Homo sapiens: one gene and its partners. The protein of the gene in region 2 purifies or fractionates together with the protein of the main gene of each other region. This does not show direct contact. Each region holds a gene or a part of one and is shown on either strand. Other genes may lie near its edges. The genes, in order: UBLCP1, MYLK4, TRAP1, GPI, RAP1B, USP28 and OTUD5.

Region 1 (4,290 bases), on a different chromosome or scaffold from region 2:
AGTGTAATTCTAAATTCATATTCACAGTACCTTCCATGTACTTCAAACCTTATGACTGACAAGCTTATGTTTAATAGAAGTTAACTATTTTAAAAATGAGCAGTCTTATTTTTAAGATCTACATGAAATCTTTGAGATTTCTACCAAGTGCATTATGAAAGCATGATAACAAAACACAGCATTTGAGGATATTTCTCCATTTTAGAACTCTTTCTGGGCTGGGCGCAGTGGCTCATGCCTGTAATCCTGCACTTTGAGAGGCCGAGATAGGTGGATCGCTTGAGTGCAGGACCTCGAGACCAGCCTAGGCAACATGGCGAAACCTTGTCTCTACCAAAAATACAAAAATTAGCCAGGTGTGGTAACGTGCGCCTGTAGTCCCAGTTACTTGGGAGGCTGACATGTGAGGATCACTGGAGCAAGGGAAGTCGAGGCTGCAATGAGCTCTGATCATGCCACTGCACTCCAGCCTGGGTGACAGAGCAAGACCCTGTCAGAAAACCCCACCTGTTTCTATGCCGACGTGGGCAGATCTTTAATCTTAATCTTAACCTTTAATCTTTAACCTTAAAAGAGGTTTTCATGAAGTGTTATCTTGGGTAGATTAATTTTATAAAAAAGAGGTTTTCAATAAAAGACACACAAGGACAGCCTGTGGAGTGTCTAAATCTACCTCTGGAATTAGAATTTAGGGGATGGGGACATACGTATTTTTAGGAATTCCTTCAGTGGGTCTACTGAGTACAGTCTTTTAAAAACCCTACTGTAAAGTAACATAAAGAACTAGACATTTACAATAACATCTCTCCCTGCATCAAGAGATGAATGGAGCTCAAATGTTGGTTAGGAAAACAAAGTTTCTTTTAAACAAACATGAAACTAATGATTGTATTTTTTTTTTTAAAGTTAAACGTCTCCTCCAAAATTATTCCTTGACCATCATGGGATCACCTCCTTGCAAGAACAGGTAATAACCATTCGTTTCACAAACAATTAGGTTTACATCAACCACATTTCTTCTCAAGACTCAAGAATACATTTTTGTACCTTTACCTGGTGCAGTACATATTAAGAAAAGCACTTCTCTCCAAGCCTTAAACAGAAACCATTAAGGACAACATAACCACTTTTCTTCCAAGTCAACAGTTTTTATACTTATGGCAATTCACTACCTAGATTAGTATTCTTTCCCTAAAATATCCTCATTGTAAACAAAAACTCAAATCAACAGTCTGTAAGAAAGGTTTAAAAAATGTACTTTTAAGTTTTTCTCTCTTGTCTTTTAAAACTACCAAGGACCCAGCTAGTAGAAAAGTTTAGGACTGAGAATGAAAACATCTCAGTGTCAGGACTGCCACTTCGAATGGAGACTCCATGTGCAATAGTGCCATAGTATAGAGCTATCTTTTCCATTTTCATATTGCGCCAACATGTAATCAACTATGGGTACCAGAAACTTTTAAATTTCAAATTTCACTCTTACCAATTTTATACTGTTACCAGGATGAAATGTCACATAAGACTGCATGCAGTTGCATGCTAAGATTGTCACTGACCTAGGAACCAAGTCACTAGAGTCTAACCCAAATTCTGTCATTAGCCAGTTACATATACAATCTTGGGCAAGTCAGGAACTTCTTCAACCTCAGACTGTTTCCAAAGTTAAGAAGGTAGGCAAGAGATGACTGTGGTTCCTTCTAGCTCTGGCAATGTCTAATTCTAAGATCTGTACTTGCCGTCTAGGAATTTTCAAAAACGTCTTTAGTTTCAGTTTAAAAAGAAAAAACAAAGTACCCTTACTGCCATTTCTCAAGCTAACCAGAATGTTTAAAATGCCAAGATTTGTATACCTAAAAAAATAACTAATGATTTCACTTTGGATGCTAAAAGTCAATGTTGGGAAGCCCATGTTGCTCCCACAGAGCTAATTAAAAATAAAACACTTGGGCCGGGCGCAGTGGCTCATGCCTGTAATCCCAGCACTTGTGGGAGGTCGAGGTGGGCAGATCACGAGGACAGGAGCCTGAGATCAGCCTGGTCAACATGGTGAAACCCTGTCTCTACTAAAAATACAAAAATTAGCTGGGTGTGGTGGTGCGTGCCTGTAATCCTAGCTACTCAGGAGGCTGAGGCAGGAGAATCACTTGAACCCAGGAGGTGGAGATTGCAGCGAGCCGAGATCGCACCACCACACTCTAGCCTGGGCGACAGAGTGAGATCCCGTCTCAAAAATAAATAAATAAATAAACAAACAAATACTTGGATGAACTAGCTAACTATGGAGACATCAATGCAAAAAAGACAAAGTTCAATTTCTATATGAATTATTCTTAAACTTTTCTCGCCTATGACATAAGAATACAGTACTTCCAAAAATATATGAAATTCAACAGTGCTTACTACAAAAGTTCTACCACACAGCCCAGATTACATGAGCACATAACAAGTAAAAGTATGTCTTACCTTTAGTCCATTCTGTGGGTTCATTAGAAAATTTCTCCCTATGTCATCAAACATAATGGTGTTTTTCTTGCTGTAAAACTCCGAAAACTTTCCCCATATAACACCAAGAGGCTTTACCTTAGAATAAAAGTTTACATTTAACTCAAATTTTATCAATATTTCATCCTGTCTTAAAAGCAGGAATACTGCAAACTGCCCTGCAGAACAATGCCAAAGTGTTCCTTTCCCCCTGTAAGACAGGTGTGAGCTAATCATTAAATGCAACCCACTTTAAAGCACAATGCATTTTGCAATATTAAAACTTCTGAAAGGTTTGTTCATGTCCAACTGAACTAAACCCATTATAAAACTTTCCATAATTTTAACGTGAAGATTTTGGGTAAAATAAATAAATTATTTAATTTTTTAAAAATCCAAAGTAATTGTTTAGATGTCTGCTATGCAGTCACATGACTTCCTTGGTTAACACATTCCTTCTCAGAGCTTGGGAGTCACATGGAGTCTGCTTTCAAAACTAGAACACCCTAGTCAAAAAAAAACTGTATTTGGCTTTTTCAATTAATAATTTGAATATTTTATAGAGGAAAAACTCGTTTTGTCTTTAACTCAGTGGCACAGGTGCATAATTTCTAGGGAATTTGATTGCTTAACTTCGGAAGCACCATATTTTACAAATTCTTACTCTTATTTCTGAATTCTTAAACTGAAGCTTCAAATAAATAATTTCTTATATAGTCTTACCTGTTGGTATTTGTGTAAAGTCTCTGTAAGACCACACAGGAAATAACACTGATTGTGGCTAGGTACCAGGTGAAAGATGACTTTTCATTATGTACTTTACTATTTTTTTAGTCATGCAAATGTATTACACATTCAGAAAATTTTTTAAATTTCTAGAAAATTACTTTTGCTGAAGACAGAAGTCTTACGGTATTATGAGAACAGAATGTAATAATAAATATATGAGATTAAGTGGTAAGAAATAAATAGTGATAAAAGTTGTAACTTAAAAATTTTTTTCCTCCTATAATTTAATTTGGAGAAAGCTTTTTCCTTCCTATTGTCTTGCCTATTACAAAAAATGTTAATGAAATATTTTAATTTACTAAAATTTTACTTTCCTGATTTTTTTTTGCTACTGATCTTGTTTACTACCGAAATAGAAACCGCCCCCTACTCCCCCCACGAAATGAAGACAAATATATAAGAATTAATACAATAAGCCATATTTTGTGGATTTTTAGCTAACAAAAGCCTCAAGAAATATGACAACAGAGGTCATTTTTTATGACATCCAGAATAAAAATCCTACATCCTCTTAAAAAGTGCTGTCATTTGTTAATTAGGTCAAGCACCTATGTTCCCCAAAACACAAACTACTTTGCTCTCAATTAGAAAAGTAATATTGCTAACTACAGAAAAAAAACATGAAAATACTGAAAAGCATAAAGGAAAATTTTAAATCAATAATCTAGTCAGTACCAAGGGCAACAACTCAATATTCTGATACATTGACTCCAGGCATTTTTATAAACAAGAGCAGCCTCAGAGAGTTGACAGGTTCTTTGTTAAATTAAGGGTAATCCTGAACCAAACAAAGGTTAAGAACTATTTTCTAACGGCTTACAACAGTGTTCTCTAAAATACTTCTTTCACTTAAATGTGTCATGAAAATTTCTAAATCATTACATATCCTACTACATCAAATGACGAGCTACAGTCCCTTATATGGGTAGCAGTAATTTATATATCCAATGCCCTATTGCTGGATATTGAGGATTATTTTTATTCCTTTAATTTTTCACTGTTATAAAACATGTTTAACAT
Region 2 (4,290 bases):
CAGGCTACTCAGAACAGTGTGCAATTTAAAACCTGTTGATTGTTTACTTCTGGAATTTTCCACTTAATATTTTGGGGCCTTGGGTAACTGAGACCATGGAAAGTGAAAGTGTGGGCAAGGGAGGACCACGATACTATACTTTTTATTCAAAATGCCTTATTGAGGAATGAAAAACAAAACGGAATCACAATATCGATTCAGTGTTGGAATTGCAGTCGGCCCTCCCTATTCGTGGGTTCTGTTTCCACAGGTTCAAACAATCGTAAATCAAAATGTTTGACCAAAAAACAATAAAAATTGACAATACAACAACAAAAATAATACAAATTTTTAAAAAATACAGTATAACAACTGTATATGTGGCATTTACAGTTTATCAGGTATTGTAAGTAGTCTAGAGATTATTTAAAGTACTCGGGGGGATAGGCATAAGTTATATGCAAAAGACTATGCCATTTTATGTCAGGAACTTGAGTGTCCTCCGGTTTTGGTATTTGCAGGGATCCTGGGACCAATCCCTCTCCGATACCAAGTAATGACTGTACTCGGTTTCTAACTAACCAGTCCTTATGTTTTTATAAAGGTGAGTTTAAATGGAAGCTTCTTAGCCCTAATCATCACCAGTTGTTGACATGACCTTTGTATTAGTGAATATGTTGAAAGTAAGATGTAGCTCAAAAACCACTTTCCTCCAGGTTGCCCTGGCTAATATTTAAGCTTGATTTTTGACAAACAGCGTAGATACAAAGCTAGATCTACTTGGTCCCACTACTTCTTAGCAATAAAATCCCATATGGAGATTTGTAACCCCAAGTGTTTCCCTTCTAGAACTGATGTGATTGTGTGATCCGCGCGAATCAGAGTCTGCGGGGGCGAGCTTGGTTCTGGTCCCGCTACAGCAGGACGGAGCTACTGAGGCACGGTCACGGTCATGAGTGCCCTTGGGGAGGTCAGGGAGGGGGCGGAGGGGATACGTACTACTCCATGACCAGGACAATGTCGTTCTTAGACTCGAAGGCATCGTACAGCTGGATGAGGTTCGCGTGGTCCAGCTGGTTCATGACGCTGATCTCGTTCTTCACCTCCTCCTGAGAAGCAGGAAACAGTGCATTAGTGTGGTCAAGATGGGGCGGGGAGGGAGGGGACCACCTCCCACAGGCTGTACCTTGTCCTTCATGCCTCTGGTCTTGATGATTTTGGCTGCCAGCTTCAGACCTGTGGCCGTCTCCTCACACTTGTGAACCTGGCCGAAACGCCCTCTGCCAAAAAGAGGAAGCGGCGTAGCATGAGGCCCTGTGGTCAGCTGCCGAGTGGACAGCGCACAGTGGCCCCAGTATTTCTCCTGCTGAGTCTGGATGAGCAGCCCTCTGAGGAGTTCTTTCAGTAAACTTCTAGAGCAGTATTTGTCAACATGTGGTGTGTGGATCACTTGCATCAGAATCACCTGGGAGCTGTTAAGAAAGCAGGTCTCGGCCGGGCACGGTGGCTCACACCTGTAATCCCAGCACTTTGGGAGGCCGAGGCGGGAGGATCACGAGGTCAGGACCAGTCTGGCCAACATAGTGAAACCCCATCTCTGCTAAAAATACAAATACAAAAAATTAGCCAGATGTGATGGCATGTGTCTGTAGTCCCAGCTACTCGGGAGGCTGAGGCAGGAGAACGGCGTGAACCCAGGAGGCGGAGGTTGCAGTGGGCCGAGATCGCGCCATTGCACTCCAGCCTGGGCGACAGTGCAAGAATCCATCTCAAAAAAAAAAAAAAAGAAGAAAGAAAGAAAGAAAAAAAAAAAGAATCCAGGATTCTGGGCCCTACCCCAGACCTCCTGAGGCAGGAATCCAGGGGTAGGCCCCAGAATCTGCATTTCAGCACATTTCTTGGGTGATTCATATGCACCCTCACATTTGAGAACCACCTTTACAGACAATGCAGAATCCTTCTGAATACATATGAATGTTATGAGCTGGGCTTTGCCAGCATATGAACAAGAGAGCCCACCTTCAGATATATAAAATTATTTTTGGAAACTGCATATGTAACAATACTGCATATACATCCATATAGTCAAGACTGCATATTGCCAAGTCACCTATGAGCTTGAATATAAACACAAGACAGCTTCTTACCTACGTAATCACATACAGATGTGCACACTTGTGAGCAGTTTTAAATTTAATTTGCTTAGTTTGATTTCTTATTTAGTAAAATAAGCTAGAACACGTGTCCCTGCTCTGCAATGGTGGATGTCACAGTAGGGAGTGAGGAACAGCTTCCCTAGCAACACAGTGAACCCGAGGCAAGCCCTATGACAAGGCAGAGGACTTCAGCGATGAAAGTCATGGCAACGCTGGGCAGATGCAGGGGCACTGGCGGCCGCTGCATCCTACTGTGGGGCTGCACACCCAGCACAGAGGCAGATGAATCTTGGAGAATGACACAGGATTACCATAAACGTAGCCACGGCGTGACTTCAATTCCAACCTCTGCTCCAGATAGAGTCTCTATGGGAACACACGGACACAGCCCCAGCCACCTCTTAATTGGTTGTTATGGAAATGGTTTCTCCCCTTCACTAGCAATGGCCGCAGAACCTCCTGAGCCAGCAGTGGTGCCCATCACTGTCTGACTTCCCGGCTCCCTCAACCTTCTGACTCTTTCCCCTGATTTATTGTGCAAGGGCCCTGAAGGTTGAGGCCAACTCCCAGGATTCATGCTGGTTCAACACAGTGATAACCTTATGCTCATTGAACATGGCAAGCAGGGATGATGGATACCCTCAAGGCCACAGGGCAGGAGACGAACTCCCAGGAAAATTCAGGGGCCTGCCCCTGTGGGCAGGGTTTTTGGGATCCAGTGGTCCTTGGCATGTTGCAATATTTCTGCCAAAAGTAAAAGATAAGTTGCTACATCTTGAACCTGCTACCACTTAAAAGGAGGTGCAGCACTTGGTGATGTCTGCATTTTGAAGGCATCCACGCACATTTGATCATGCTCCTCTCACTTATTTGCTGAGTGAATTACGGCTGCCAATTTTGGTGAAGCCCATAACGAGAGCTGACGGGCAGCTGGTCTAGACTGCAGTACCAAAGAGAAGATCCCATGGTGCCCAAACAGACAGAAAGGAAGTTTCAAAGGAGCAATTGACAAACCTTGACCAGAAAAACAGCACAAACCCTGGGAATTCTTTCAAAGCTTCTTCTGCAAATAACTATTCTCGGTTAGAGAAATAGTTGCTGGCTTGCCACTGATGTCCCTGAAGGCCCAAATACCTCAGGCTTCCATGGAGCCAGTTCATGCTGTGGAATTCCTGTTTCTCCCTCAGCCCATCCCCGCAGTCTCATGGGGCATTCTATGAGATCAGCCAGATCAGGAAGGGAAAGTCCAGGTGGTTCCATTCGGCACAGGGCAAAGAAATACGGAGTGGGAAGAGGAGGAAGGGACTTCACAAATATCAAGGACTCCCTGAAGACCACTTGCAGACGCCTGAACTGCAGTAGCGATGCGTGCTTTCCTTGTGTTGGTGAGTACATTTTGTATGTATACGTGCAGATGTTCTGCTTTCCTCTTCCTATTTTACACAGACATGCCGATGGCAGCAAACGTTATAATTTAGACTTTGAGTTACAAGATATCACGGGGGGTTGTGAAAGAAGTAAACGAAGAAGAACACCCTCTCCCCACCCCCAGCAGGAAGCGGGTCCCTGATGGACTTTAATTTTCCTTCTGGTTTTTTTTCTTTTCTTTTTTTTTCTTTTTTTTTGAGACAGAGTCTTACTCTGTCACCAGGCTGGAGTGTAGGGGCCTGATCTCGGCTCACTGCAGCCTCCAACTCCCTGGTTCAAGCGATTCTCCTGCCTCAGCCTCCCGAGTAGCTGGGATTACAGGCATGCGCCACCACGCCCAGCTAATTTTTGTATTTTTAATAGAGACGGGGTTTCACCATGTTGGCCAGGATGGTCTCGAACTCCTGACCTCAAGTGATCTGCCCGCCTCAGTTTCCCAAAGTGCTGGGATTACAGGCGTGAGCCACCGCGCAAGGCCTTTAATCTTCCTTCTTTAGGGAGAATGTGTGTTTAAATGTCCCTAAAATAAGTTATTTGCTGAGCAAAGTAATCAATTGAAATGAATAATAGTAATTAATATAGTAACAACATAAATGAAAAACCAGCAGCAATGACAGAAAGACCTAATACAGGCCACAAAAACTACACGCTGTTGACTCATTTCTATCTTCTGTCTCCTGGAGGCTGCACTATGGCTTTGGACAGCTGGTCAACCTTCTGGTGACTC
Region 3 (4,290 bases), on a different chromosome or scaffold from region 2:
AGAGGAAGGAGGAGGAGGTCCGCCTCAGCCAGGCCAGCTTCCTCCCAGTCCCAGCAGGAGCTCGATGCTACGCAGCCCTGGCGGGCAGCCCCCCTCCCAGTCCCGCAGCGGCTCGGCCCTTCACGGCTCTGCCTGTGCACCCTACGTGCAGGTAGAACCAGGGAAAATGCCTGCTGACCTGGTGGCCTCCAGGCCACACATGGATCCCAGAGTGAGCCTGGGCCCGGGCTCCCGCTCACCTCGCACCCGGGCCTCGCTGGAAAACTCCTTGCAGTCGGATTTCAGGTGGATGATGATTTTTGTCCCGGTTCTAACTCCCGAAGCTTCGGCGATTTCAAACACTCCAGAACTAAGGCAGGCAAAGAAAGGAAAAGCCAGGTGGATGTGACACTGGGACATACCCTGCATGGGACTCCAGCGGTTCCCGAGGGTTTCATAGGCAGAGCCCAAACAACACACAACACACCTCAAATGCCCCATTTCTGACCCCAGCGCACCACTCAGGCCATCACATGCCCATCAGGAACGATGAGCCTGTCGCAGGCGGCAGAGTTCTCCTGGTTCCCTCGGGCGGGGGGCGGGGGGGCGGGGGTCCTCCACCGACCCTGGGCTTCGAAGAAGCTTCTGGGCTTACCCCAAAAGCAGGCCTGGGGCACTGTGGGGGACTGGCCCAGCTCCAAATCGGGTGCCAGATGCCCAGGGGCAAAAACAAAGGCCAGGGGGACAGGCGCCCCCTAAGAAGAGCAGAAAACCATCTCCGAAGCACAGGAGGGGGGAATCCCCCGGCAGGGCCATGTTGATGCCTTGGCCTAAGTTTACTCTGAGCCCCGCTCCCATGGAATTAAACAGGAATGTTAGTTTTGGGAGAGTGGGGAGTCAAGCTGAGCACAGTGCACACACTGTGGAGCAGAAATGGCATCACGGAGGGAGGACGCCTCGGCTGGCTGGAAGCGGCTCACCTGCTAAAAAGCCCTCGGAGCCAGGCGTGGTGGCTCACGTCTATAATCCCAGCACTTTGGGAGGCCAAGACGGGCAGATCACCTGAGGTCGGGGTTCGAGACCAGTCTGACCAACATGGAGAAACCCTGTCTCTACTAAAAATACAAAATTAGCTGGGCGTGGTGGCATGCGCCTGTAGTCCCAGCTACTCAGGAGGCTGAGGCAGGCCAATTGCTTGAACCTGGGAGGCGGAGGTGGCAGTGAGCCAAGATTGTGCCATTGCACTCCAGCCTAGGCAACAAGAGTAAAACTCCGTCCCAAAGGAAAAAAAAAAAAAAAAAGCCCCCAGCAGGCTCCTCACCCTATAGAGGCAGAAGTGGGCTGGGGAGACAAAGCCAGGAAATGCCAGGGCTGGGAGGAAGCAGAATGAGCTCTTGCAGAAGGTCGGTCACAGGAGGCTGCATAGTGTCCACCAGGCGACAGGCCAGTCCTGCAGCTCAGCCACTGAGAAAGGAGCTCAGCGCGGGCCGGACCTGCCTTCCCGAGCGCAGTGGTGGTGACCAACCACATGGGACCAGACAGGTGCCATAGGCCACCTGGAGCCACAAAAGTCACTAACTCCCCAAAATGGGAGAGTCAGATTTCATATAAAAAGCCCAGAAAATGCCTGTGTACGTTTTCTGAGTCCATCCCTTTCCAAACTCCATGCTAAGGGCTCCAGCTCAGCTTTGAGCTGCCTGTCAGGCGACATTCGTCACTCACCCATCTGAAAGCCACTGGTAACCCAGGCTCCCCGGGGCTGCCGAGCGGGAATAGACCTCCACTCTGTCAGCCACCATGAAAGCTGAGTAGAAACCCACTCCAAACTGGCCGATGATCTTGCTGCTGGCCTCAGCCTGGTTCTGCAGAGCATCCAGGAAGGCCTGTGGGGCAGAGGCCAGTTAGTGAGGCAGCCTCCCCTCCAGAGAGCAGACACTCCCAACACCGTGGCTCTTCTGCGAGCACCGCTAAGACCCCTTCATCCTGAAAACAGCCACACCGAGTACTTTTCCACCCCATTCTACACGTGAAGAGCTAAGTCACAGAGAGGTGACACATTAGCCCTAGGACAACCAGCTGGCAGCAGTGGGACAAGTGTGTTTTCCATTTGATTCCCAAAGCTCACAGTCCTGCCTGTCCCAGACAGGTGGAGGCCTGTGGGTCACACCTGGGGGTGGGGAAAGAGCAGCTTGAATAAGCTCTTTCCCTTGAATAAGCTCCTTCCATAGGAAGGCCAGGAGTGAGGAGAGGCTCCAAACTGGCTTCCATATTCAAGTCTCCTGGACTCTACACTTTGTGGGAAAAAGAGTAGAAATCACGCGCATGCGTCTGTAAGCACCGCACAGCACTTCATTTTTCTACTATAATACTGCCAAAGGTCCTAAGGCCAAAGTCAAGTAAAATACACACGCCCACTGCCCTGGCCCACGTTGTCCGATGGAACTTTCTCCAACAACAGGAACGTTCTGCCAGGTGCAATGCGACAGCCTGCCGAGCACCTGCAATGTGGCCTGTGCAGCTGAGGAGCACAATGTCCCCTTTTATTTAATTTGAATGCATTTACATTTAAACTGCCACATGCAGCTGGTGGCCGCTACACAGGACAGCAGACCAACCTCGAGAGAAATACAACAAAAGACGTAACGTGGGGGTCAAGTCACAGTTAGGGTGGGTTTTTTGTTTGTTGTTGTTGTTGTTGTTGTTTTTGAGATGGAGTGTCGCTCTGTCGCGCAGGCTGGAGCGCGGTGGCGTGATCTCAGCTCACTGCAACCTCTGCCTCCCGGGTTCAAGTGATTCTCCCGCCTCAGCCTCCCGAGTAGCTGGGATGACAGGTACCACCACCACGCCCAGCTAATTTTTGTATTTTTAGTAGAGACGGGGTTTCACCGTGTTAGCCAGGATGGTCTCCATCTCCTGACCTCGTGATCCACCTGCCTCGGCCTCCCAAAGTACTGGGGTTACAGGCGTGAGCCACCGCACCCGACCTAGTGTTTTCATCTTACAGATGAGGAGACTGAAGTAAGTGCTTTGCCCAGAGCTGGAAAAGGGCGACCGCTGGAGGTTCCCAGGCTGTTGGTCTGAGTCCAAATGTGTTGCTCTGCCTCACAGCACTTTTCTGCAAAGTCGATTCCCTGAGCCTTGTGGGCTTGACGCAGAGAGGGTCAGAGGGATCAGTCCCCTCTCACACAGCGCCGTGATGAGAACGGGCTTGGGATGCGGCGTCTGTGGGTTTGATGGTTCTGGTCAGAACTGCTCTGTGGGTCTGGGCATAGTGACGTGCACCTGTAGTCACGCCTCAGGAGGCTGAGGCTGGAGGATAGCCCGGCCAACATGGTGAAACCCCGTCTCTACTAAAGATACAAAAAATTGGCCAGGCGTGGTGGCTCGTGCCTGTAATCCCAGCTACTTGGGAGGCTGAGGCAGGAGAGTTGCTTGAACCGGGAGGCAGAGGTTGCAGTGAGCCAATACAGTTGGTCCTCCTATCTACGGGTTCCACATTTGCAGATTCAACCAGCCAAGGATCGAAAATACTCAGAAAAAAAATAAAAAACAACACAATGATAAAAAGTAGTATAAAAAACATAACTATGTTATATCTATATCTAGCATTTACATTCTATCAGGTATTATAACTAACCTAGAGACCATCTAAAGCATACAAGAAGATGTGTCTACAATATACGGCACCAATTTAATCCGGGACTGGAGCATCTGCAGACTTTGCTATCCAAGGGGGGTCCTGAAACCAACCCCTAGATACTGAGGGACCAACCCCCAGATACTGAGGGATGGCTGTCATGTCATGAGGTGTTCCCACAGTACCCACTGCGTGGCATGCAACTGACAACGTTCTTACTTAATCTGGCACCCAGGGCCACCCCTACTGGAGGGATCCTTGCACCCTGAGGGGAAGGGGGAGGCTGTGTGGGGGCCCCACGCTTACCTTTGACCCCGATCTGGCAATCGTCCCCAGGTTGGACACCAGCTCTTCCTGTGTCATCCCGATACCAGTATCCTGAGGAGAGAGACGCACTAAGTGCCAAGCCCCCAGCACCTGGGGAGCCGGGTGAGTGCACCAGCAGTCCCAGGGACTCAAGTGGTGTCAATGACATTGGCCAGACAGGGCCCAGCCAGGTAGCACCAGATGCTCATCAGAAAAGACTAATTCTAGGGGCCGGGAGTGATGGTTCATGCCTGTAATCCCAGCACTATGGGAGGCCAAGGCAGGCGGATCACTTGAGGCCAGGAGTTCAAGACCAGCCTGGCCAACATGGTAAAACCCCATCTCTACTAAAAAAGAAATTAGCCAGG
Region 4 (4,149 bases), on a different chromosome or scaffold from region 2:
CTTCCCTGCTAAGGGCTCGTGGTCCAAGCCCACAACCAGAGGGTGCTCTGGGTGGTGTCCAGGAACATGCAGTGCCGGCTCCGGGGAGGAGGGACGAGAAGAGAAAGGGGAGTCACAGAGGAGGCTGCAGATGAGCACGAGTTTATTGGACTCTGGCCTCGCGCTGCTGCTTGATGAAGTTGATGAGCCCATTGGTAGAAGCGTCGTGAGAGGTCACTTGAGCACTGCCATCAAGCTCAGGCTCTATTTTCTTAGCCAGCTGCTTTCCCAGCTCCACTCTGCCAAGAAGGGAAGGGAAGGGAAGAGTGGTATGAGGAAGGCTCTAACGTTGCTACTGAAATCCCTGAGCCGACACAAAGGTATTCCCGGCCCTCCCCTAAGTGAGCAACTCACCCCCACTGGTCAAAGCTGTTGATGTCCCAGATGATGCCCTGAACGAAGATCTTGTGCTCATACATGGCTGCAGAAGTGACAGACAGGGCACATCAGGGCTCCACAAGCCCATTCCAACCTACCCCAAGCCAGGACCTTTCCCCTACTCACTCACCGACCAAGGCTCCAAGCATGAATGGTGTGAGCTTGGTGAACACAATAGAGTTGGTTGGGCGATTTCCTTCAAAGACCTGCAGAAAACACCAAGGAATGTCTCCAAGAGAGTCCTGATCCCTAAACCCCTTGAAGGGAAGCACACCCTGCCCCAGAGGCTGAGACGTGCAGGTCTGTGAGGACAGGCCCTCCCATTCTGTAGGACAAGCCAGGCACGCCCCAAGCCCCTGCCTGGTGCCATAGCTTCACACCTCCAACTCCAGCATGCACCCCAAAGCCAAATGCAGAAGTGCTGACCTTATGTGGCAGCAGCCTCTCAAGGTCCTCTGGACTCTTGCCCGCAGCCTGGAGCTCCTTTCGGGCCTCCTCCGTCGATTTTCCCCTCATCAGGGCCTCTGTCTGGGCCAAGAAGTTGGCCAGGAGGATCTGATGAGCGAGACATCAGTTATGCTTGAGAGCACTGTCTGGGCTTCAGGCAGAGGGACAAGACCGCCTGGTACTTCTCAGCAGGGGTCAGTCCCAGCCTGGGTCACTCGCTGTACAGCTCAGTTGGAGCGAGGGGGACACATCCGATGACACCACAAGGCAGGGAACAGTGATAACTGCTCTTTAAGAACTACACACCAGTGGCCAGGCGCGGTGGCTCACGCCTGTAATCCCGACACTTTGGGAGGCCGAGGCGGATGGACCACGAGGTCAGGAGCTCGAGACCAGCCTGACCAACATGGTGAAACCCGTCTCTACTAAAAATACCAAAAAAAAATTTAGCTGGGCATGGTGGCGCATGCCTGTCATCAGGCAGGAGGCTGAGGCAGGAGAATCACCTGAACCTGGGAGGCAGAGGGTGCAGTGAGCCAAGATCACGCCACTGCACTCCAGCCTGGGCGACAGACCTAGACTCCATCTCAAAAAAAAAAAAAGAACTACACACCACTTGCTAGGGGTCCTGCTCACAATTTTACCAACATCTATCTTTTAAGATCCTAAGAAGGTAGCTGGGCGTGGTGGTGTGCAACTGTAATTCCAGCTACTCCGGAGGCTTAAGCACGAGAATCACTTGAACCCAGGAGGCTGAGGTTGCAGTGAGTCAAGGTCACACTACTGCACTCCAGCCGGGGCAACAAAGTGAAACGGTGTCTCGAAAAAAAAATAATACTAAGATCCTAAGGAGGAAAGGCATCATCGCCCTGTTCTAGTAGAGCCTTGGGTTCCACAAGTCCACAGTGCTGGATCACAGAACTATAGACAGGAACAATCAGAATTCAATCCAGCTCACTGACTCCCAAGATTGTGCTACCGTAACCCTGTGCTGCTCTGCACACCTGAGACAAAGCACAGTAAATTCTCTGAAGGAGTTCGAGGGCAGCTTGGGCAACATACTGAGACTCCATCTCTACAAAAAATAAAAATAAAAAAATCAGCTGGGTGTGGTGGCGTGTGCCTGTTCCCAGCTACTCAGGAGGCTGAGGTAGGAGGATTGCTTGAGCCCAGGAGGGTGAGGCTGCAGAGAGCCTGATTGTGCCACTGCACCCCAGCCTGGGCAACAGAGCAAGACTCTGTCTCTTTAAAAAAAAAAAAAAACTTAGCCAGGCATGTTGTACATCTGTGGTCCCAGCTACTCAGGAGGCTGAGATAAAAGGATTGCTTGAGCCCAGGAGTTCAAGGCTGTAGTGAGCTATGATTGGGCCAGTGCACTCCAGCCTCAGCAACAGAGTGACATGCTATCTCTAAAATAAAATAAATAAATAAAATAAACAAAAGGGGAGATTTTCCTGGATTATCTAGTAGCCCCAATCTAATCACACTGGCCCTTAAAAGTAAAAGAGGGCCAGGCACGGTAGCTCATGCCTGTAATCCCAAAACTTTGGGAGGCCGAGGCAGGAGAATCACTTGAGCCCAGGAGTTGGAGACCAGCCTAGGCAACATAGTGAAATCTGGCCTCTACAAAAAGTTTAACAGTTAGCCAGGCTGTTAGTGCCTGTAAGTGCCTGTAAGTGCCTGTTAGTGCCTGTAAGTCTCAGCTATTTGAGGGGCCGAGGCAGGAAGACTGCTTGAGCCTGGGACGTTGAGAATACAGTGAACTGTGATCATGCCACTGTAAGTCCAGCCTAGACAACACAGCATGACACTGTCACTTAGGGAACAAAAGCAAAATGTAGAAGAGGAAGGTAAACAAGTCAGAGAGATGCAACAGAAGTGGCAAGACAGAATCAAAGCTTCAGAGAAGGATTTAACCTGCCATTGCTGGTTCTGCAGTGAAGAGGCCCACAAGCTAGAGGATGCAGGTGACCTCTGAGAATCTGAGAACGACCTTCAGCCCACAGCAAGGAAGCTGGACTTCAGTTCCACAACCATAGAGAAATGAATTCTGCCAACCACCTGACAAGCAGGTCAAAGGCTTTTCCCCTAAGGTCTCCAGAAAGAAACACAGTCCTGATGACACCTTGATTTCAGCCTGCAAGACTCTAAGCAGAGACACATCAGGGCCTGCTGGATATTTGAGCTTCAGAAACTCTTCAGATAGCCCAGGAAGGTGGCTCATGCCTATAATCCCAGCACTTAGGGAGGCCGAGGCAGGTAGATTACTTGAGGTCATGAGTTCAAGACCAGCCTGGCCAACATAGTGAAACCCCCCCTTTACCAAAACTACAAAAATTAGCTGGCCATGGTGGTGAGTGCCAGTAGTCCCAGCTACTTGGGAGGCTGAGGCATAAGAATCACTTGAGGCCGGGAGGGGAAGGTTGCAGTGAGCCAAGATCGTGCCACTGCACTCCAGCCTGGGCGACAGAGCAAGACTCTGTCCCCCCTCCCCACCCCACAAAAGAAGAGTGTTGTTTTAAGCCTCCATGTTTGTTATCATTTGTTACGGCAGGAATAGAAAACTAACGTGATTGCCAACCAATGCACCAGGTTTTCAGAGGTCTGGGTGCAATGTGAGCCAGACCCCCCAGATGGGGCCAGATGGGGGCTCTTACCTTGTGATGCAGACCCTTCCGTATGGGGTGCTGGGTCTGGACCGGGATGAGGAAGTCACAGGGTATCATCTTGGTGCCTGTGAAGGGCACTGTGGTCACCCACATGACCCCAGCCCATGGGAGCTAGCCATATGGCCTAGAGGAGGGCACTGACCTAAGTGAGATATCTCTTCTGGAAGATCCTTTCCCTCCCCCAACATCACCCTTCCCAGGCCACAGGGGCCTACCTTGGTGGATGAGCTGGTAAAAAGCATGCTGGCCATTGGTCCCTGGCTCCCCCCACACAATGGGGCCTGTCTGGTGGTCCACACGGGTTCCAGATTTGGTGATGTATTTCCCATTGGACTCCATGTCGCCCTGGAAAAGGAACAGAAACCCAGTTCTTGGCAAAATGAAAGAACATTTAAAAAGAAAGAAAGAGGCTGAGCGCAGTGGCTCAAGCCTGTAATTCCAGCACTTTGGGAGGCCAAGGCAGGCGGATCACCTGAGGTTGGAAGTTTGAGACCAGCCTGATTAACATGGAGAAACCCTGTCTCTACTAAAAATACAAAATTAGCCAGGTGTGATGGCGCATGCCTGTAATCCCAGCTGCTTGGGAGGCTGAGGCAGGAGAATCGCTTGAACCCGG
Region 5 (4,290 bases), on a different chromosome or scaffold from region 2:
AAAAAGGAAACATATAATAAGAGATTTGAAAAGTCTGGACATTTCCTTCCCAACAGATATTAAAGGCAACGTCTTTAATCTAAGACATTATACTGAAAGGACTATCATGTTTTAAAGACAAGATCACCGTCTCCACAGGTTTTTTAAAAATTAAAAAAACTATATAGCTGTGTTAATCAAAGCGCTTATTTTGTACAATAATAATGACCTTGAATTTCTTAAAAAAAATTACAATAAGCTACAAGTATCAAAGAAGCGAAGTTATCTGGAGTAGTCTATATAGGAGCTCTTTGGACTTTCTTTTATTATGCTAAAATAGTGGTGCTTTTAGGATTTACATTATTGTACTCTCCAATACAAAGTATGGGGCATGTTAAAGTATACAGTACACCATTTTCATACATGTACAACATTGGTGGATGAAGAATGTCTCTTAGCAGTAATACTGGATGTAGCCTCTGGTTTTACCAGCTGCAAACTCTAGGACTATTATATAAGTAAAAATCTCTCTTGTGATACTGGAAAGTGATTAGAATGTGCAAACTGATATAGTAGCTTTCATCCGCCTCTTAAAGGGTACCACCACAGGAAAGTCCATTTAAGATGTTGGTAGGTTTAACAAAGTTGGAATGCTGGCACTGTTGAATTGGGCAACAGTTCTTCAGACCTGTCAAAAGGAAAAAAATTAATTAAAAACATGGGCTAGAAAAAGTAAAGACCCAAAAGCAAACAGTTAAGAAAACAGTCTTAAAAGTGTTAGAAATGAATATAATCTAGGCTCTTGTTCTAGGCATTACATTAGTGGCAACATACCACAATTCACGGCAGACCTTTTCATTCCAAAAAGATGAAGTCTATTCTGCTGCCCTCTTGAAAGTCAGTTAAATGAAAATCTTAGGAACAGAAAGGGAAAGTACCTTTGTGCAAATTTTTGTGCATTACCTTCCAAGGATTAAAAAGGAAAAAAATCACATTAAAATTGTTAGTCAAGTCAACCTTATTAGAATTAGGATTGAAAAGTCAGATAGCAATATTAACAAACTGGGTGATCCTGTGTTTACACAATCGTAATGTACTCCTAGAATTAGATCATAAGTATAGAATGCACATCTAACCAAGGTTTCTAGTATCAGATAATCAAGTTCTTCCTCACTCTTTCAATGAAAGTGGCTAAAAAGCTCGTTCAGAGCAGACAAATAGAATTTATTTCATGATGGTGTTTTACAGATTTACAATCACGTTATATAATTTCTAATTCCATATTTAAACATTCTATTAAGACTGATGTCAGAAAAAGGTGGTATTACACTAAAATCACATGTAATTAAAGATTTTAAAAAGTAAACTTAGAATTGTTAAATATGTACTTTGAATAGTTTTCTGCATACATGCCTCGGCTAAAAAAATGTTCCCTATTATATTTTTCTGGTGATCAGACTTGTTACAAGCTCCAGAAGAGTTGTTAATACATATGTGGCTGTTGAAATAATTTTCACAAATGCCTAGAACTTTAGGTCCTCATTCTGAGTCTGAATGAGGTTTGCAATCAAGTTTTCTAAATCCTGGCAGACTGTTGCAAATTAAAAAGGACAGATGGAAGTGTGTGAGCTCAAGCACATGTGTGCTGCTAAGAATGGGCATGTGGTCAGGAATTATAGGATATTAGAATGAGAGGATATACCACTAAACAGAAAGCCCTAGATGGAAGGCAGGAATAAAAACTCTGAAAAGATGCAGAATCAAAGTGCTATGGCAGCACTGAGTCAATTAACATAGGAAGAAATAAGAGTCAGGAATGTCAAAGGTTCTTAAGAATAAATTAACAGTTTAACAATAAACAGTTTAATGACAGCTGAAGAGGAAACCATTATCATTGGCAAACAGCAGCAGCTAATAGTTGAGTGTTAACTATGTGCCAGGTACCGATGCAAGATCTGTGCAGCAAACCCCATGGTACACCTTTACCTATGTAACAAACCTGCACATCCTGCACATGTATCCTGGAACTTAAAAGTTGAAGGAAAAAAAAAAAAGTGGCACATGATGAACATGTCAGGGGTGTGTGTGTGTGTGTGACTGGCACATGATGAACATGTCAGGGGTGTGTGTGTGTGTGTGTGTTTTAAATTAGGGACGGTTGGCTGGGAGCGGTGGCTCACGCGCACGCGCGCACGTGTGTGTGTGTGTGTGTGTGTGTGTGTGTGTGTGTGTGTGTGTGTGTTTTAAATTAGGGACGGGGTTGGCTGGGAGTGGTGGCTCACGCCTGTAATCTCAGCACTTTGGGAGGCCGAGGTGGGCAGATCACGAGGTCAAGAGATTGAGACCATCCTGGCCAACAATGGTGAAACACCATCTCTACTAAAAATACAAAAAAACTAGCCGGGCGTGGTGGCACGTGCCTGTAATCCCAGCTACTCGGGAGGCTGAGGCAGAAGCATTGCTTGAACCTGGGAGGCGGAGGTTGCAGGGAGCTGATATTGCGCCACTGCACTCCAGCCTGGGTGACAGAGTGAAACTCCATCTCAAAAAAAGAATACTTATGTGAAATACTTTACTCATGATGATAAGTAAATAATTAATAAGATAGCATACTAACTCATGGATATCTTATAAAAATAAACCATTTATTTTTCAGAACCAACAAAAAGAAGTCTATACTTGCTTTCATGACAGAGTGCCCTTAATAAGGTTGAGTGATTAAAAGTTAGAGGAAAGATAAGTGAACATACCTGGCTCAGAGCTACAATGCATTTAGTATATTAAAGCAGCTGACATGATGACTTTTTGCGAGCCTTCCCAGGCACTGGAGTTTTTCTGTTAATTTGCCGCACTAGGTCATAAAAGATCTGCAAATACAATAATTTGTTTTAATTTACAGGAGGAACACCTATCCCCCCCAATGAAAAAAGTAAATTGAAAAAACAGAAATTTCCATGGATATAAATTAATGCCCAGAATTGTTCAGCTAAGGAATGAGAATAAAATCAGGTGTTATAACTGCCAAGCTCAAATTTTTGGGGAGTGTTAATATTGTGCTCCTTAAAATACTTAGTTGAAGGAGCTGCAGAGATCTTAACTTAGTTCAATTAGAACATTTACCATCACACAAAGAAAAAATCCTTTTAAAAACTGTAAGTTTTTGCTCTACAACATGACTTGGAGCCTTTCAAGAACCATGCATACTTTTCGGAATTTTACTCTATTTTTCATATAACATCCTTCATATACCTGAAGTCTTAATCTGTCTTCCCTATCCATGTATTTTCTGTCCAGTCTTCCTTTTTCATGGTAAATATCAATGTACAAGTATTTAATAGAGACTGAAATAGTATTGTTTATTTACTACATAGATACATTTAACATGAGGGTTTTTTTTTTTTGCCTGTAACATCAACATATTACCCTGAGTACATATTAACTTGGGGTTAAGACATTTTCCATTCATCTTCAATGTTGTACTTCAAATGAAGACCCATTTTAAGTATATTTGACCATACCTCATTAACATTTATTTTTGATTTTGCAGAAGATTCTAAGAATGCACAGTTGTTCCATTGTCTTGCTAGATTTTGACCTTGTTCCTTCCCTACAACTCTTTCATCTTCCAAGTCACACTTATTACCAACAAGAATCATTGGAACCTAAAAATACATTTGTGAGAGTAAAAATAAATAAGTAAATATGCTATATGAATTCAAATCAAAAGAATTCTAAGAGTCAAATCTAAGAATTACTTTTCATATGCCACAAAAAATATTAAATAATGTATAATAAAATTTACAGCCTTAACAATTTAATCTGTAACATAAACATAAGTATTAACTTTGATGTCAATTATCTCCACTGCCTTCTCTTTTCATGGAGATGCAAACGATAACTCCAAAGGGAAGAAAAGAGAGAAAGAAAACTCTCATATGTTAAGTAAAATGAACACAACCTAGTCAATGTAGACATAAATAAGACACTTTTACATAAACTTTTGAGAAAACAAGCTATGATCCTGTTATGAGAGATGGGGGGAAAAAACCTTAAAATTTTATCATAATGGACGGAAGGCTCCCAAAATAGAATTTTTAGTTTCTCATAGTCTTGTATTAAAAAAGTCAATCAAGGCCAGGCACAGTGGCTCACGCCTGTAATCCCAGCACTTTGGGAGGCCGAGGCGGGTGGATCACCTGAGGTCAGGAGTTGGAGACCAGCCTGGCCAACATGGCGAAACCCTGTTTCTACTAAAAACACAAAAATTAGCTGGGTATGGTGACACACGCCTGTAATTCCAGCTACTTGGGA
Region 6 (4,290 bases), on a different chromosome or scaffold from region 2:
GGAAGAACTAAAACAACATTGAAAAGAAGAACAAAGTTGGAGGACTCACACTTCTTATATCAAAACTTAGTATTAATCCAAAGCTACGGTTATCATAACAGTGTAGTACTGGCATAAGGACAGATATATAGACCAACAGAATAGAACTGAGAATCCAGAAATAAACTCGTATCTGTGGTCAACTGATTTTCAACCAGAGTGCCAACACCATTTGATGGGGGAAAAATCATGTCTTCAACAAATGGTATTGGTACAACTGGATATCCACAGCAGAAGAATCACACTGGACCCCTACCTCACACAATACACAAAAATTCCTCAAAATGGATCAACAACCTAAATAAATAACTAAAACTATAAAATTCTTAGAACACAGAGATAAGTCTTCATGACCTTGGATTTGTCAATGGATTCTCAGCTATGACACCAAAAGCACAAGCAACAAAAGAAAAAAATAATAACACTTTTGAGCCAGGCATGGTGGTGTGTACCTGTAGTCCCAGCTACTTGGGACACTGAAGTGGGCTGATGTACTTTTCTGCATCAAAGGGCATTATCAAGAAAGTGAAAAGACAACCGGTATACAAATTCAAGAAATAAACACATACATCAAGAAATCCAACAAGAAATATACAGTGCTGGCCGGGCACGGTGGCTCATGCCTGTAATCCGAGCACTCCGGGAGGCCAATGTGGATCACCTAAGGTCAGGAGTTCAAGACCAGCCTGGCCAACATGGTGAAACCATCTCCACTAAAAATACAAATATTAGCCAGGTGTGTTGGCACGCGCCTGTAATCCCAGCTTCCTGGGAGGCTGAAGCAAGAGAATCACTTGAACCCAGGAGGCAGAGGTTGCAGTGAGCCGAGATCAGACCACTGCACTCCAGCCTAGGTGACAGAGCCAGACTCTGTCTTGGGGAAAAAAAAAGAAAAAAGAAATACACAGTGTACAAATTATCAAGAAAGTGAAAAGACAATGGGAGAAAATACTTTTAAATCATTTATCTGGTAAGAGTCTAGCATCTGGATGATATAAAAAACTCTCTTTGAACTCCCTTTAAGTCAACAACCAAAAAACGAGACAACCCAATTCAAAAATGGACAAAGAACTTAAAAAGATATTTCTCCAAAGAAGATATATAAATAGTCAATAAGTTTATGAAGACACTTAACATTAGCCATAACATTAACATGGCCAAATCAAAATCATGATGAGATGCCACTTCACACCCATTAGGATGACTGTTATCTAACAAAAACAAAAAATAACAAGTGTTTGATGAGAAAAGAGAAAAACTAGAACCCTTGTGTATTGCTGGTGGGAATATAAAACTTCCCCAGCAACCTTGGAAAACAGTCTGGCAGTTCCTCAAGAAGTTAAACATAGAATTACCATATGAGTCAACAATTCCTTCTAGGTATATACCCAAAAGAAGGGAAAACAGGTACTCAAATACAAGTATATGAAAATTCATAACAGAACTATTCATAATAACCAAAAGGTGTAAATAACTCAAATGTCCGTCAATGGAAGAATGGACAGGCAAAACATATCTATACATACAGTGGAATATTACTCAGTGATTAAAATGAAAAACTCATACATGCTACAACTTGAACAAATCTCAAAAACATTACAATAAACGACAGATGCCACACATAATAGGTCACATATTGCATGATCCATTTACATGAAATCTCTCTAATACGTAAATCTAGAGACAGAAAGTAGATTGGTATTGCCAGGGGTGGAGGGCATGGGGGAATAGGGAGTGACTGCTTAATGGTTACAAAGTTTTCTTTCAGGGTAATGAAAATGTTTTAGAACTAGACGGAATTGGTGATTGCACAATATTGTGAATATATTAAATGTCACTGAACTTGTACACTTGAACTTTTTTTTTTTGGAGACAGAGTTTTACTCTTGTCACTCAGGCTAGAGTGCAGTGGCATGATCTCCGCTCACTGCAACCGCTGCCTCCCGGGTTCAAGTGATTCTCCTGCCTCAGCCTCCCAAGTAGCTGGAATTACAGGTGCTCACCACCACATCTGGCTAATTTTTATATTTTTTAGTAGAGACGGGGCTTCACCATGTTGGCCAGGCTGGTCTTGAATTCCTGACCTCAGTGAGCCACCTCACCCAGCCCCACTTTAAAATAATTTTATGTTATATAAATTTTGCCTCAATTGAAAAAAAAAAAATCACCTGGGTGCAGTGGCACACACCTGTAGTTCCAGCTCTGCAGCAGGCTGAGGCAGAATGATCACTTGTGCCCAGGATTTTCAAACAGTAGTACACCACGATCATGCCTGTGAATAGCCACTGCACTCCAGCCTGAGCAACATAGCTAGACCCCAACTCTATGAAAAAACAAATGAATAAGGAAACCTGTATACACATCCCCACACAAAAGGAAAGAAGGAAGGGGGGAGGGAGGGAGGGAGGAAGGGAGGGAGGAAGAAAGGGAGGAAGGGAGGGAGGGAGGGGACACAAGAAAGTACTAACTTGGGCAAGAAGATTGAAAAAGAAAATGTTGTTTAGAAAATCTTCTTAGGGTTAAAGTGCCTACCAGCCATCATGTAGCATGCAGCTGGTACTTACTGAGGCAGATCTTTAGTTTGGTTTTGTGTGTCTGATATTTTGACCCCTGTTTTACGTAGAAAGCCTAGACGCTGGAAATAGTGCCATGCAGCCCAGACTCCAGCACACATCAGCCTCCTGGCAAATCTCAATCTTCCTCAGCATCAGTTTCCAGAATGGAAAATGAAGTACACCAAAAGCTTTGACAGCCCTGTATGACTATCAAAGGAAGTACTGCAAATAAATTGTTAGCAAAATGAAGAAATGCAATAGAAATGAAAAATACTGGGACTTGCCTGTTCAACTAAACTCCTCTAGAGTTTACAGTAAAAATACTGATATCCTGTGTTATAGTTTTGGTTTTATCACTTACTTGCTGTGTCACTTTGCAAATTCTACTTCCTGCTCATACTAAATTTTATTTCATAGAGTGCCTATGAGGGTTCAATGAAAAGTTATTAAAATTATTAAAGTGCTACATAGTCAAGTGGTAAGTCAGAAACTTTGGTTTTAGAAAGGCTTGTACTAAAGTCGGAGAAATGTTATGCTTCAAGTCAGAATGGCTTGAAGTCACAGCTCTGCTACTTATAATTCAATCATGGTCATAAGCTGCATTTCTCATCTGTAAGATAGAAGCAAACAGACTTCAGTTTAAAATCTCATACGAATAAAGAAAAAAAGAGATAGGTACCATGGTTCACGCCTGTAATCCCAAAACTTTGGGAGGCTCAGGCGGGAGGATCACTGGAGCGCGGGAGTTCAAAACCAGCCTGGGCAACATAAAGAGACCCCCCATCTCTACAAAAACTAAAAATATTAGCTAGGCATGGTGGCACATGTCTGTAGTTCCAGCTACTCTGTAGGCTGAGGTAGGAGAATTGCTTGGGCCCAGGAGGTTGAGGCTGCAGTGAGCCATGATAGAGCCACTGCACTACTCCAGCCTAGGTGACAGAGTAAGACCATGTCTCAAAAAAAAAAAAAAAAGACAAAAGAAAGAAAAGGAATAAATAAAATAAATCTCATATGAGGCCCTTATAAGGCATACTAACATCTGAGGTCAGGCACGGTGGCTCATGCCTGTAATCCCAGCACTTTTGGAGGCTGAGGCAGGATGACTTGGTTCATAAGTTTGAGACCAGCCTGGGCAACACAGAGAGACCCCATTGCTAAAAAAACTTTTAAAATTAACCACAGGCTGGGTTCGGTGGCTCACGCCTATAATCCCAGCACTTTGGGAGGCCAAGGCAGACGGATCACCGGAGGTCAGGTGTTCAAGACCAGCCTGGCCAACATGGTGAAACCCCGTCTCTACTAAAAATACAAAAATTAGGCGTGGTGGCATGTGCCTGTAATCCCAGCTACTTGGGAGGCAGAGGCAGAAGAATCAATAGAACCCGGAAGGCGGGGGTTACAGTGAGCTGATCTCACGCCACTGTACTCCATCCTGGGCAACAGACTGCGGTCCGTCTCAAAAAATAAAATAAAACAAAAGTAGCCAGGTGTGGTGGTGCATACCTGTGGTCCCAGCTACTCAAGTGTCTGAGGATTGCTTGGGTCTGGGTGGTCAAGGCTGCAGTGAGCCTTGACGGTGTCACCACACTCCAGCTTGGGTGACAGAGTGAAACCCTATCTCAAAAAACAAACAAGACATCTCAGTTTCCTCATCAGTAATAGGGTAATAGTTCACACCTTGCTGGGTTTTTGTAAA
Region 7 (4,290 bases), on a different chromosome or scaffold from region 2:
ACTCATCCCACTGGATAGTCTGGTTCCTGAGATGTGTGCTCCTCTGCTCAAGGATTCCCACTGCAAGGATGAGAAACCTGAAGGATACACGGGAGAGGCTGAAGGAAGCTGGTGTACAGGAAATGGCCCGTGGGAATCTTCTTTCTGTGGCCTGGTTCAACCTCAAATACCAATGTTCTGACACTGGTTGTATGACCTAGATAGGGTAGGGTCTTGGCTTTCTCTTGAGGCCTCAGTTTCCCCATTTATAAAACAATCAAAATTGATCTCAGATCCATCCCTCCTAGTGCTGATGTTCCAAGACCAAAAGGCCCAGAAGAGTGGGCCTAGCTAATGTTTCTGGGCCTCATCGTGGTAACATGCACAGCCCTTGCCACTCCCCCATGGCCCATGTAGAAACAACCATGTGGCCTTCACTCTGCCCACAGAAGCTAGCACCAGGACCCTGGTCAGGGTTAGAGGTTTCTGCTGAGTCAAAGCCACATGGAGGGAGGGAGCAAGGGAGAGATGCAGAGTCATGTTTCCAGGAGGAGGTTATCTGAGCATAACAGGGACAGGGTGGGCCACAGGATACCTCTGAGGCTCAGGTTCCCACCTCCACTCCACCCAAGCCTTCAATGATGCTCATGAATCCCCAATAAGAGGAGGTGGGAGAGAACTGAGCGCAAGCAATGGATATTGCTTAACTCAGGGGAACCAATGGCAGGCAGGCAGCTACCTGGGGAGTAGGCAATTCTCAGAAGTCTCTAAAGCAAATGGTAGGACCCTATAGGAAGATAATCCAGGGGAACAGAAGGCAGAAAGCCACCTGCCTCAAGACTCCCAACAACAGAGGGCCACGTGCTCCTACTTGGAGGAGGTAAGGTCCAGAGAAGTCAAGGAACACAGCCAAGGTCATCCAGCCAGTTGACAACCAAGCTAAGAAGCTAAGGATCCTAGGATCATAAAAAGAATGTGTCCTGGCCGGATGCGGTGGCTCATGCCTATAATCCCAACACTTTGGGAGGCCAAAGCGGGTGGATCACAAAGTCAGGAGTTTGAGACCAGCCTGACCAACATGGTGAAACCCCATCTCTGCTAAAAACACAAAAATTAACCAGGTGTGGTGGTGCACGCCTGTAATCCTAGCTACTCAGGAGGCTGAGGCAGAAGAATCACTTGAACCCGGGAGGCAGAGGTTGCAGTGAGCCGAGATCACGCCACTGCACATTCCAGCCTGGGCGACAGAGGGAGACTCCATCTCAAAAAAAAAAAAAAAAAAAAAAAAAAAAAAAAAAAAAAGAATGCGTGTCCTTTGGACACCTCTGGGTTCCCAGGCCAGCTCTGGCTAATGGCCCTGAGCATGTCATTTCCCTTTCTATGCTTCAATCTTTTCACCTGTCTCATGGGATAATGATCCAAGTTTTGCAGTGAGCCTGAAGCACCCAGCTGAATGCCTAGCACACAGCAGGGGTCAAGGAAACAGTGCCCTCTATGTTTGCAGCCCCCGCCCAACTCCAACTCTCTGCTCCACGTTCCTTCCACTATTCAACACATGGCAGGAAGTCAGCCTGTAGGGCTTCACACTACAGTCTAAGCTGACTGCCATCTGTCCCCATCCAGGCGAGGCTGGAAACGGGGGCAGCAAAAAGCCCAGGGACAAAGTCCCCTTCCCAGGCACATGTATTATGCACTCTGCACCAAGGAAACCTCCAGATAAGGTCTAGAGACCAAGGGCCATGTACTTCGGGGGAGAGGCCAGAGGACTTCTGAGGTTTTACAGAGAAAAGCCAAAGGCAGCCCAGTCAGGGGAAATGTGTAGCCATAGTGCCGATAAGGAAAGGCCTTCAACCTGCCCTGGTCAGCTCTTCCTGTAAGTAGAGGCCCCTTACTGAAGGCCCCAGTGGGAGGAAGGGTCGGGAGTATTTGGGGAGAACAGCTAGATACATATAGACACACACACACACACAAATACTGCTCTTGATACGAGTTACTACAACAAGCCAGGTCCTCACTAGCTAGCCCCAAGGGTCGGGGGTATTTGGGGAGAACAGCTAGCTAGATACACACACACATACACACACACACACACACACACACACACACACACACAGAGAACAGCTAGCTAGATACACACACACACACACACACACACACACACACACACACGGCTCTTGATATGAGTTACTACACAAGCCAGGTCCTCACTAGCCAGTCCCAAGGCTTACCCTCAATGACTGCCCAAGACTCAGATGCCCGCTGCATTCTCTAATCCTAACTCCACCAGAAGCCCTGCTTACCCCACATCTAGCCTGAGGTCTCAACACAGGGCCTAGCACCTAACAGGCCCCCACCTATTCTTTCTTTGCCTTTCTTTTGTCCAAGATGCCCCGAAACCCAGCTCTTCCTCTGGGAAACATCCCAGGGAAAACACAAACTTGAGCCAGAGGGGTAGGAGGGATAAGTTTTTTCCCAGTCCAATAGAGCCCATTGCCTGAGCCTCTTCTGCTTGGCAGAATAGAGAGGAGACCATTCACTCCACCCTTTCAACAAACACATGTGACTCTGAGGCACCAGTGAAAATGGCATCTGGGTTTTACAAATGCTACTGTTCCATGAGGGTCTACTATATGTGTCAGGCACTAAAGGGATTTACCAAAGCAACTTCATTAAATCGTTACAGCATTAGGGTCTTTTAGCCCCATTTTACAGATGAGGAAACAGCCTCAGGAAAGAAGAGCTGCTTGCCTAAGGTCATACCAAGAATCAGTTGTGCAGCCAGGGATGGAGCCTAAAACACCCCAGCCCACCAGTAGACATGGGGGGTACCCACAGACGGAGAGAATAGCAGACCAAGAAGGAACTCAAAGAGGCATTGAGAATCAACACCATTTCACAGACGGGAAGACCAAGGCCAAGTGTCACAGCAGTTATGAGTCAGGGCCAGAACTAGAAGGTAGGTCTTCTGACTCCCAGCTCAAAGCTCCTATCAGAGGGCACTTTTCCTTGGTAGATATCAGAGAACCACAGGGAGGATCAGGTCACATTCCCAGCTTCCCCTTCACCCTAGCACAGGACCTCACAACTACTTGTTGGGTCACAGATTCAGAGCCAAAATGGCCTCAAAGATCTAACTCAGACTGGATAACAGATGGTATTAAGGCATTATTAATTCTGTTAGGTGCAGTAATGGCATTTTGATTATGTTAAAAAGAAGAGAGTAAGTCTGTATCTGTCAGAGAAACATACAGAAATATTTATGAATGAAATGATCCAATGTCGGGGTTTTGCTTTAAAAATACTCTTCTTTCAGGGGAGTGAGAAAGAGTGGGCGGGATAGTGATGAAACAAGGCTGGCCACGTATTGACTATTTTGAAGCTGGATGATGGGTACATGAGGGTTCATCATTCTCTCTACTTTTATATAAGTTGAAAAAAAATTCTATGATATAAGAAATTTGTAAAGATCTAGTCTGATAGCCCCCATACACACAGATTGAGGAACAGAGACCCGCAACACACCAGAGATGGGATCTGGGTATAAACCTAGGGGTCATACAGCCCAGGGTGGCAGCAGTATGCTATGGTTAAGAGCATGGGCCTCAGACTAATCTAACCCAGACACTGAATCCCAACTCTACCACTTATTATTTCACTCCAGACAAGTCACCCACCATCTCTGAGCCACTTTTCTCATCTGACAAATGGAAGCAACAGTAGTCCCTACACTCACCTAGCTTAGAGGGGAATCAAAGAGGTTTCCTGTAGCACCTGACAATGTGTCCCAAAGGATATTATTTTCTTTATCATTCTTCTTGCTGTTATTATGCATATTAATCTTGCACCACTACAATGTCTCAAGACCCACGGCTAGAGGTCAGATACCAACTTGAGGCTGGAGCCTAGAGTCCCTAAAAGATTAGCTAGCTCTGCCTCAACCCTGTCTCAGGGGCTATTCCTGATAACTGGGACACAGCTTAGGGGCAGCCCTAGGCCCTTAAGGACTAAGGCAGAGACTCACCTACAGCCCGGAAGAGACAGGCGCCATCCTCCTTCATCTGCTTGATGATGAAGCCCTTCTTGTCTCGTAGGGCCTTTTCAAACCAATGCTCCTGCTGGAGGGAAGAGGTGGGGGTCAGCAACAGGGAAAACCTGTACTCCCTCCCCAGGGCCCCGACCTCAAGCTCCCGAGAGGCCTAGATCATTGACAGAGAGGACGCTGGCCAAGGTAAAGTTCTCAGCCCTGTTTGACCACTCCATGCATGTGAAGTAGGAGACTCTTTTAGGGAATTAGTTGCTGAGTGAAACTAA

The links.
Region 1: the proteins of MYLK4 (region 2) and UBLCP1 purify together in Homo sapiens (affinity purification with mass spectrometry; one large-scale study listed by BioGRID and IntAct). This does not show direct contact.
Region 3: the proteins of MYLK4 (region 2) and TRAP1 purify together in Homo sapiens (affinity purification with mass spectrometry; one large-scale study listed by BioGRID and IntAct). This does not show direct contact.
Region 4: the proteins of MYLK4 (region 2) and GPI purify together in Homo sapiens (affinity purification with mass spectrometry; one large-scale study listed by BioGRID and IntAct). This does not show direct contact.
Region 5: the proteins of MYLK4 (region 2) and RAP1B purify together in Homo sapiens (affinity purification with mass spectrometry; one large-scale study listed by BioGRID and IntAct). This does not show direct contact.
Region 6: the proteins of MYLK4 (region 2) and USP28 purify together in Homo sapiens (affinity purification with mass spectrometry, with the first as the bait; one large-scale study listed by BioGRID). This does not show direct contact.
Region 7: the proteins of MYLK4 (region 2) and OTUD5 purify together in Homo sapiens (affinity purification with mass spectrometry, with the first as the bait; one large-scale study listed by BioGRID). This does not show direct contact.

Annotation. Positions count from the first base shown.
Region 1 is NC_000005.10:159,276,528-159,280,817, reverse strand, and holds part of UBLCP1 (ubiquitin-like domain-containing CTD phosphatase 1), read right to left. Parts: intron 2,581-4,290; coding exon 2,464-2,580; intron 1-2,463. UniProt on the Homo sapiens protein: Dephosphorylates 26S nuclear proteasomes, thereby decreasing their proteolytic activity. Recruited to the 19S regulatory particle of the 26S proteasome through its interaction with 19S component PSMD2/RPN1.
Region 2 is NC_000006.12:2,684,318-2,688,607, forward strand, and holds part of MYLK4 (myosin light chain kinase family member 4), read right to left. Parts: intron 1,260-4,290; coding exon 1,166-1,259; intron 1,089-1,165; coding exon 979-1,088; intron 1-978.
Region 3 is NC_000016.10:3,675,797-3,680,086, forward strand, and holds part of TRAP1 (heat shock protein 75 kDa, mitochondrial isoform 1 precursor), read right to left. Parts: exon of another isoform or gene 3,995-4,290; coding exon 3,923-3,994; exon of another isoform or gene 1,863-3,922; coding exon 1,702-1,862; exon of another isoform or gene 350-1,701; coding exon 240-349; exon of another isoform or gene 1-239.
Region 4 is NC_000019.10:34,396,030-34,400,178, reverse strand, and holds part of GPI (glucose-6-phosphate isomerase), read right to left. Parts: intron 3,879-4,149; coding exon 3,749-3,878; intron 3,599-3,748; coding exon 3,522-3,598; intron 973-3,521; coding exon 844-972; intron 624-843; coding exon 548-623; intron 461-547; coding exon 394-460; intron 279-393; coding exon 143-278; 3' UTR 1-142. UniProt on the Homo sapiens protein: In the cytoplasm, catalyzes the conversion of glucose-6-phosphate to fructose-6-phosphate, the second step in glycolysis, and the reverse reaction during gluconeogenesis.
Region 5 is NC_000012.12:68,655,657-68,659,946, reverse strand, and holds part of RAP1B (ras-related protein Rap-1b isoform 1 precursor), read right to left. Parts: intron 3,642-4,290; coding exon 3,498-3,641; intron 2,847-3,497; coding exon 2,760-2,846; 3' UTR 2,730-2,759; intron 668-2,729; 3' UTR 1-667. UniProt on the Homo sapiens protein: GTP-binding protein that possesses intrinsic GTPase activity. Contributes to the polarizing activity of KRIT1 and CDH5 in the establishment and maintenance of correct endothelial cell polarity and vascular lumen.
Region 6 is NC_000011.10:113,865,376-113,869,665, forward strand, and holds part of USP28 (ubiquitin carboxyl-terminal hydrolase 28), read right to left. Parts: intron 1-4,290. UniProt on the Homo sapiens protein: Deubiquitinase involved in DNA damage response checkpoint and MYC proto-oncogene stability. Involved in DNA damage induced apoptosis by specifically deubiquitinating proteins of the DNA damage pathway such as CLSPN.
Region 7 is NC_000023.11:48,940,190-48,944,479, forward strand, and holds part of OTUD5 (OTU domain-containing protein 5), read right to left. Parts: intron 4,095-4,290; coding exon 4,001-4,094; intron 1-4,000. UniProt on the Homo sapiens protein: Deubiquitinating enzyme that functions as a negative regulator of the innate immune system. Has peptidase activity towards 'Lys-48'- and 'Lys-63'-linked polyubiquitin chains. Can also cleave 'Lys-11'-linked ubiquitin chains (in vitro).